Regions from separate parts of the Homo sapiens genome. Here region 1 is linked to region 2. Evidence: fine-mapped expression QTL. A gene starts in region 2. The other region holds a variant in brackets. All regions are shown on one strand. Distances are between the middles of the regions.

Region 1 (3,018 bases), 63 kb before region 2:
GGCACATGTATACATATGTAACAAACCTGCACATTGTGCACATGTACCCTAGAACTTAAAGTATAATAATAATAAAAAATAAATTAAAAAAAGAAAAAGTAAAAAAAAAAAGTTATACAGAAATTAGAACTGTGACAAGTGTCCCCAGAAAGTTTTGGCAGGAACCCCAAACTTTCCAGCCTAAAGAAGAAATGCATTATGAAAGAGGTTCCAGTAGAGGTGGCAGATAGCACTGCATATACCCACCACATGACGGTTCATGTAACAGCAAGAGGAGGAGTGAGAGGCATGAAAACACGAGCAAAAGCTATAGAGTCACAGGAAAACAAAAGTTCTTCCACGGCTGGCGAGAATATAGCTTAGAATATAGCTAAAATTGTTCTAAACCAATCGCTCTTCTGCTAAATGATAATTTTAAAAGGTAACAACAATGACACACCACTGTACACCCACTAGGATGACTAAGTTCCAAAACATCGACAATATCAATTGCTGGTGAGGATGTGGAGCAACAGGAACTCTCATTCATTGTTGGTGGGAATGCAAAGTCATACAGCCTCTTTAGAAGACAATTTTGTACTTTCCTGCAAAGCTAAACATAACCTTATCATATGATCCAGCAATAGTGCTCCTGTTGGTTTTCCCCAACAGAATTAAAAATGTATGACCACACAAAAACTGGCATGCAAATGTTTATAGCAGCTTTTTTTCATAATCATCAAAAACTAGAAGAAATCAAAATGTCCTGGTTATGGATCCGTTTGTGAGAAATGTATCTCTTTTTTTTTCTTTTTGGGAACCTCTATGAATGATGTTATCCCACTCTGAAATGCTTATCAATGATCAGTGATAACAAGACAGGAGAGTTCCCTGGTTCCCCTCACAGGGCATGCAATCCCCTCACAGGGGTGCTGCCCTCTGTTCCACCGCCGTGAGCTCAAACCCCCCTTACGGGAGGGGGACCACACAGACGGGAAGGTGCAGGAGCTGGGGTGAGAGCTTTGGGCTCTGGCCCCACAGTAGCATCTGGGGTGGGTGCCTGCAACCCCAGTGTTACAATGCTCTTTTAGCTCTGCCTTGCAGACGGCTTAAGTGTTAACCAGCTCTGTGCCCCCTCTGCCTTTCTGCAAGGGCAGAGGGACAGTGTGACAACTTTCTGTATCCTGAGCTCTTGTCCAGCATCCTGGAAGAATTGGGTCACACAGGGACTTGAAGAGTGGAGAATGCGGGCGCTTTATTGAGTGGTGGAGGTGGCTCTCAGTAGGATGGATGGGGAGCTGGAAGGGGGATAGAGTGGGATCTTCTCCTAGAGTTTGGCCACCCAGCAGCTAAACTCCTCTCTGACCATCCACAGCCAAGCTCCTCTTGGCATTCAGAGACTCCTCCTCTTCTCTCTTTCTCTGTTGCATCATTTTGCTGTTTATCGGCTTGTCTCCTCATCTTCTCACCTGCTTCTGGAGCCTGGGGTTTGGCGTTTATAAGGGTATAGGATAGAAGGCATGGTGGGCCAAAAGGCAGCTTTTTGGGCACAAAAACAGGAATGCCTGTTCTCACTTAGGGCCACAGGTATTCAGGCTTGAGGGTGGAGCCTTTGCCAGCAACCCACCCTCTTCTATCCAGTATTTCCCTGTCTCCTGTCTGTATCAATGAGACCATGAGGATCATAAAAACCCTTACTTGCAGCTACCCTGACACCCCAAGGTACATCCTGAAATGCTGTTGCCTCCATACGGAGGGAAACGGGGGTGGGTGAACTGAGCAGGCAGGAAGGCAGCA[C/A]TGACATAAAATCAAAGGCACCAGAGCTGAGCATCTCCTGCTCCCCTGGCTTGGATGCAGCAAGTAACAGAGGAAACCAGGGATCACACTTCGTATGGATCCAGCGGACTCCAGAAAGCCAGCTTTACACAGCATTACTGCTCTTGGTAGGGGGTGATTGCCACAAATTAGTTACACTGGGGAGATGGAAAATAAAATATTAATTTTCATTAATATCAGTTCTTTCAATATTTTTCATAACATGAAAAATACATGTTGTTTTTAATTATATTTCACTATTTTCAATACTTTCCCTAATTGTCATCCATAAATATTCAAGATTTTTCTTTGCAGAGAAAGAGGAGGTGTGGAGTCTATCCAAAAGCTAAACAAGTTGTTGGTTATTTTACAGACTGGCTCTTCAGGACGTCACTATGGACCAGTCAGGTGGGCTTCCAGGCCAACAGCATGGCAGGTAGCTCCCTGGAATGTCATGAAATCCAAAAGTCAGAATAAGGCGAGTTTAGCAGCAATCTGCAGAACACGTCCCCGCTTCATTGTGCCTGCGCCTCTGCTCCGCTGCCTCCACCAGCAATGGCACAGAAACTGCATCAGCAGCAAGGTGGGGTGCCTACTGTAGCTTCTGCAGGTGCAGACCAGGTGGAATTCCTGAGCTTCCAAGATTAAAACACACAAGCTGCTTCCAAGAATTCCATAGTGTTATTCAGACAGAGGAACATGGGAGATCCATGGTGAATATCTGTGTGGTCACATTTATTTTCTTCATTTTATCAAATGCCACGAACCCAGGCACTCCTGGGGCGGGGATGAGGGGAATGGATTCTCAGACTAAATGCCTGTTACCTCGAATTAAACATCTTGAATATTCTCAATCAAAAGTGAGAAGATGTCTTGTTCCTAAAGACTTTTTCAAATAAAAATAAGACTATTCCAAAAGTATAAGACTATTACTTAAGAAAAAAAAAAAAGCTCAAGAAAACAATCCACTTCTTAGAGGAAACTGGCGAAACACAATCATCAACTTCACGCTGTGACCTGCAGTGCTTCCCATGGCTCCCCCAGCTGTGCTCCTGTATTATAGACTGAATTGTCACTCGGCCATATGTAATTCTTGTTGCATTTAAAGGATGTGATTTTTGGCAAGGATGGGCACTCATGGCTTGAAGTGTGCTTGCAATATATCACTCTTCACCTCTGAAGCCTCGGAAACGTGGGGAGGCACTGAGCATATACTTAGGGCAA
Region 2 (2,730 bases):
AGCTTGGCTTTCGGTGAATGAACCGCCCAGAACGGCACCTGGCATGAAACTGGTACTCGATAAGTTATCTGAATGAGTGAATAAACAATATGAAAACACTACACATTGACAGCTCACAGAAAACGGTGGAAACGATAATGAAAACCTTACTACAGCTAAAATTTCTATCACTTCCCATGAAACACACATCCTGAGGGCTTCCCAGGATCAATCAACCCCTCATCCCTGCTACTGCCCCACAATCCGGCACCACCTTCCCACGACTCTCAGCGGAGGCCCGGGCCCCAGCAGCCCCGGAAGCGGCGCGGAGGCGGTGGGCAGAGCTCACGGCCGCGGGCAGAACTCACGGCCGCGTCCCGCCGGGTGGGCGCTCGGAACGTCCCGGGTTCCCCGGAGCGCGCCGCCCCAACCCGGCATGTTCCCCAGTTCCCCGCGTCCCCGAGTGCGGTTTCCCTAGGCCTGGAAAGCGCCTAGAACCAAAGGCAGAACATGAGGAGAGACCCCACGCCGCCCAGGGGCCTCCCGCGGCAGAGGCCGACGCCGAGCCCAAGGACACGCTCCCGGGGACACCAAAGCCAAAGGCCAAAGGCCAAGTCCGAGCCCCAGCCCGCGCCCGCGGCGACCCCCGGAGGCCGAAGGGCGTGGGAACCACGGGCGCAAGCCGGCTGCCCACCCCCGCCCCGGGCCGCCTCTCCCAGGAGATTAGTGCAGGGCGAGCGGCCGGAATCCGGGAACCGTAGCCGACAGGCAGCTTACCCACGCCGCGCCAGCCGGGCACGAACCTGCACAACGCGACTTCCACCAACCTTGCGCCAGCGCGCACTGACGCAGCGCCCATGCTCGGTACCCAGGACCAATAGAAAGCTCCGAAGGGGACCTGGGCCAATCACATTGCGCCGCCCTGAGTCGTGCTCCCGCCCCGCGTTTGCTACGGAGGCCCACGACGCCCAGGCGCTTCCGCGACCACCCGGAGTGATTGCCCGGCAGAGCGCGGTAGGTGTCAACGCGGGGTCTCCGCGCAGTTGGTCCGGCTGGGTGTCAAAGACCTGGCCGGCTTTCTCCTCAGGCTGCGCCGCCCGGCCCGTGTCTCAGCGCAGGTCCCCGGGGCGCCGAGTTTGGGGGTGCTCGCCCCGCGGGTCCCTTTCATTCCTAGGAAAACGCGCCGCGGGGCCTCCCGTCTGTCTGTCTTGCACACACGTGTTGCCAAATCCCCCCGCACCGTCTTTAGATCTGGACTGGCCGCCCCACCTTCTCCCTTCATTGATCTATGTTTTGCTTTTTCTTTTCCTACCTTGTTTCCATTGACAAAGTAGACCCTTTCCTTCAACACTAACCTTCTCCCGACACCGAGGGGAAACCAACAGCTTAGGGCCTTTCCAGCGCGTTTTTACCCTTGCCTTGCTCTAACCTCGCCTAATTTTGCCCACTTTACCTGTTCTTTGATTTCTATCCAAATGCAATTTCTTCCTTCAACCAACATTTAAGGGCCACCCTTAAGAGCTACATTGCCTGAGTTTGAACCCTAGCTCTGCCACTTAACCACCTGCATAAACTGGGCAAAGTAACTTTGTGCTTCAACTTCTTCCTCGTGTAAAATGATAGTAAAAGTACTGAATCTGTGTAAGTTAATAGAATACCTACAACAGTGTTTAGCAAGTAATAGCGATTGTTATTGTTCAATGTCAGCCACTCTTCTAACTCTAGGATGCAGAGACTTTGCCCCTCTGGTGTTTATATGTTAACCATCCTTTTTTTTTTTTTTTTTTTTTTTCCAGATACTCGTTTGTAGTTTCATAAACATTGATGTTGGGTCAATCATGTTCTCAATGTATTTAACCATGTGTTTTTAAATTTTTTAATTTAGTTATCAAATTGAGAATCTGATGGTATGGCATTAATCACCTTGAGGAAGAACCTTTATCGTTTATCTGATTTTCAGATGCATAGAGCTCTGGCTGCTTTAAAAAATAAACCTCTAAATCATGTTCACAAGGTAGTCAAGGAGCGTCTGTGCCCTTGGTTGTGTTCACGACAACCTGAGCCTTTCGGGGTCAAATTCCATCATGCCCATTGTAAAAAGTTTCATTCGAAAAATGGAAATGACCTTCATCCACTCGGTGGACCAGTGTTCTCTCAAGTATCTGACTGCGACAGGCTTGAACAAAATGTTAAAAATGAGGAGAGTCAGATGTTTTACAGGAGACTGAGCAACTTGACTTCATCAGAAGAAGTGCTAAGTTTTATAAGCACGATGGAAACCCTGCCTGACACTATGGCAGCAGGAGCTTTACAACGAATTTGTGAAGTGGAAAAAAAGGATGGTGATCAAGGGCTGCCAAAAGAAATACTGGAGAATAGCATCTTTCAAGCTTTATGCTTTCAGTTTGAAAAGGAGCCCTCACAGCTGTCAAACACTAGTTTAGTGACTGCTTTGCAAGCTCTGATTCTGTTGCATGTGGATCCTCAAAGTAGCCTGTTGCTGAACCTGGTGGCAGAATGCCAAAATCGTCTCAGAAAAGGTGGCATGGAAGTTCGCAATCTTTGTATTCTTGGGGAAAGTCTGATTACACTGCACAGTTCAGGTTGTGTGACACTAGAACTCATTATAAATCAACTTCAAGGTGAAAAATTGGAAACATTTACCCCGGAGGATATTGTGGCCCTTTATAGAATCTTGCAGGCATGTACTGAAAAAGTGGATGAACACCAAACATTTTTAAATAAGATAAA

Alleles and levels. Positions count from the first base shown, and alleles are read on the strand shown. Sizes are in standard deviations (SD) of each study's normalised expression.
With allele C in place of A in region 1, the expression in monocytes of the gene that starts at base 941 in region 2 is higher (moderate effect, 0.51 SD a copy in Fairfax 2014).

The links.
Region 1: its variant is fine-mapped to the expression of FASTKD3 in monocytes (Fairfax 2014, PIP 0.95).

What each region holds. Positions count from the first base shown.
Region 1 is chr5:7,930,041-7,933,058 of GRCh38, reverse strand. No RefSeq gene overlaps it. Among named protein-coding and RNA genes, the nearest start is that of MTRR, 62 kb to the right of the region's middle. The variant C/A (reference allele first, on the strand shown) is at 1,777.
Region 2 is chr5:7,867,242-7,869,971 of GRCh38, reverse strand. FASTKD3 (FAST kinase domains 3) reads left to right here and starts at 941. Exons shown (of 7, transcript NM_024091.4): 1 at 941-993; 2 at 1,776-2,730. The coding sequence starts at 1,889. It overlaps MTRR (5-methyltetrahydrofolate-homocysteine methyltransferase reductase), which reads right to left and starts at 824. Exons shown (of 15, transcript NM_002454.3): 1 at 757-824. RefSeq lists silencers at 322-371, 432-481, 492-931.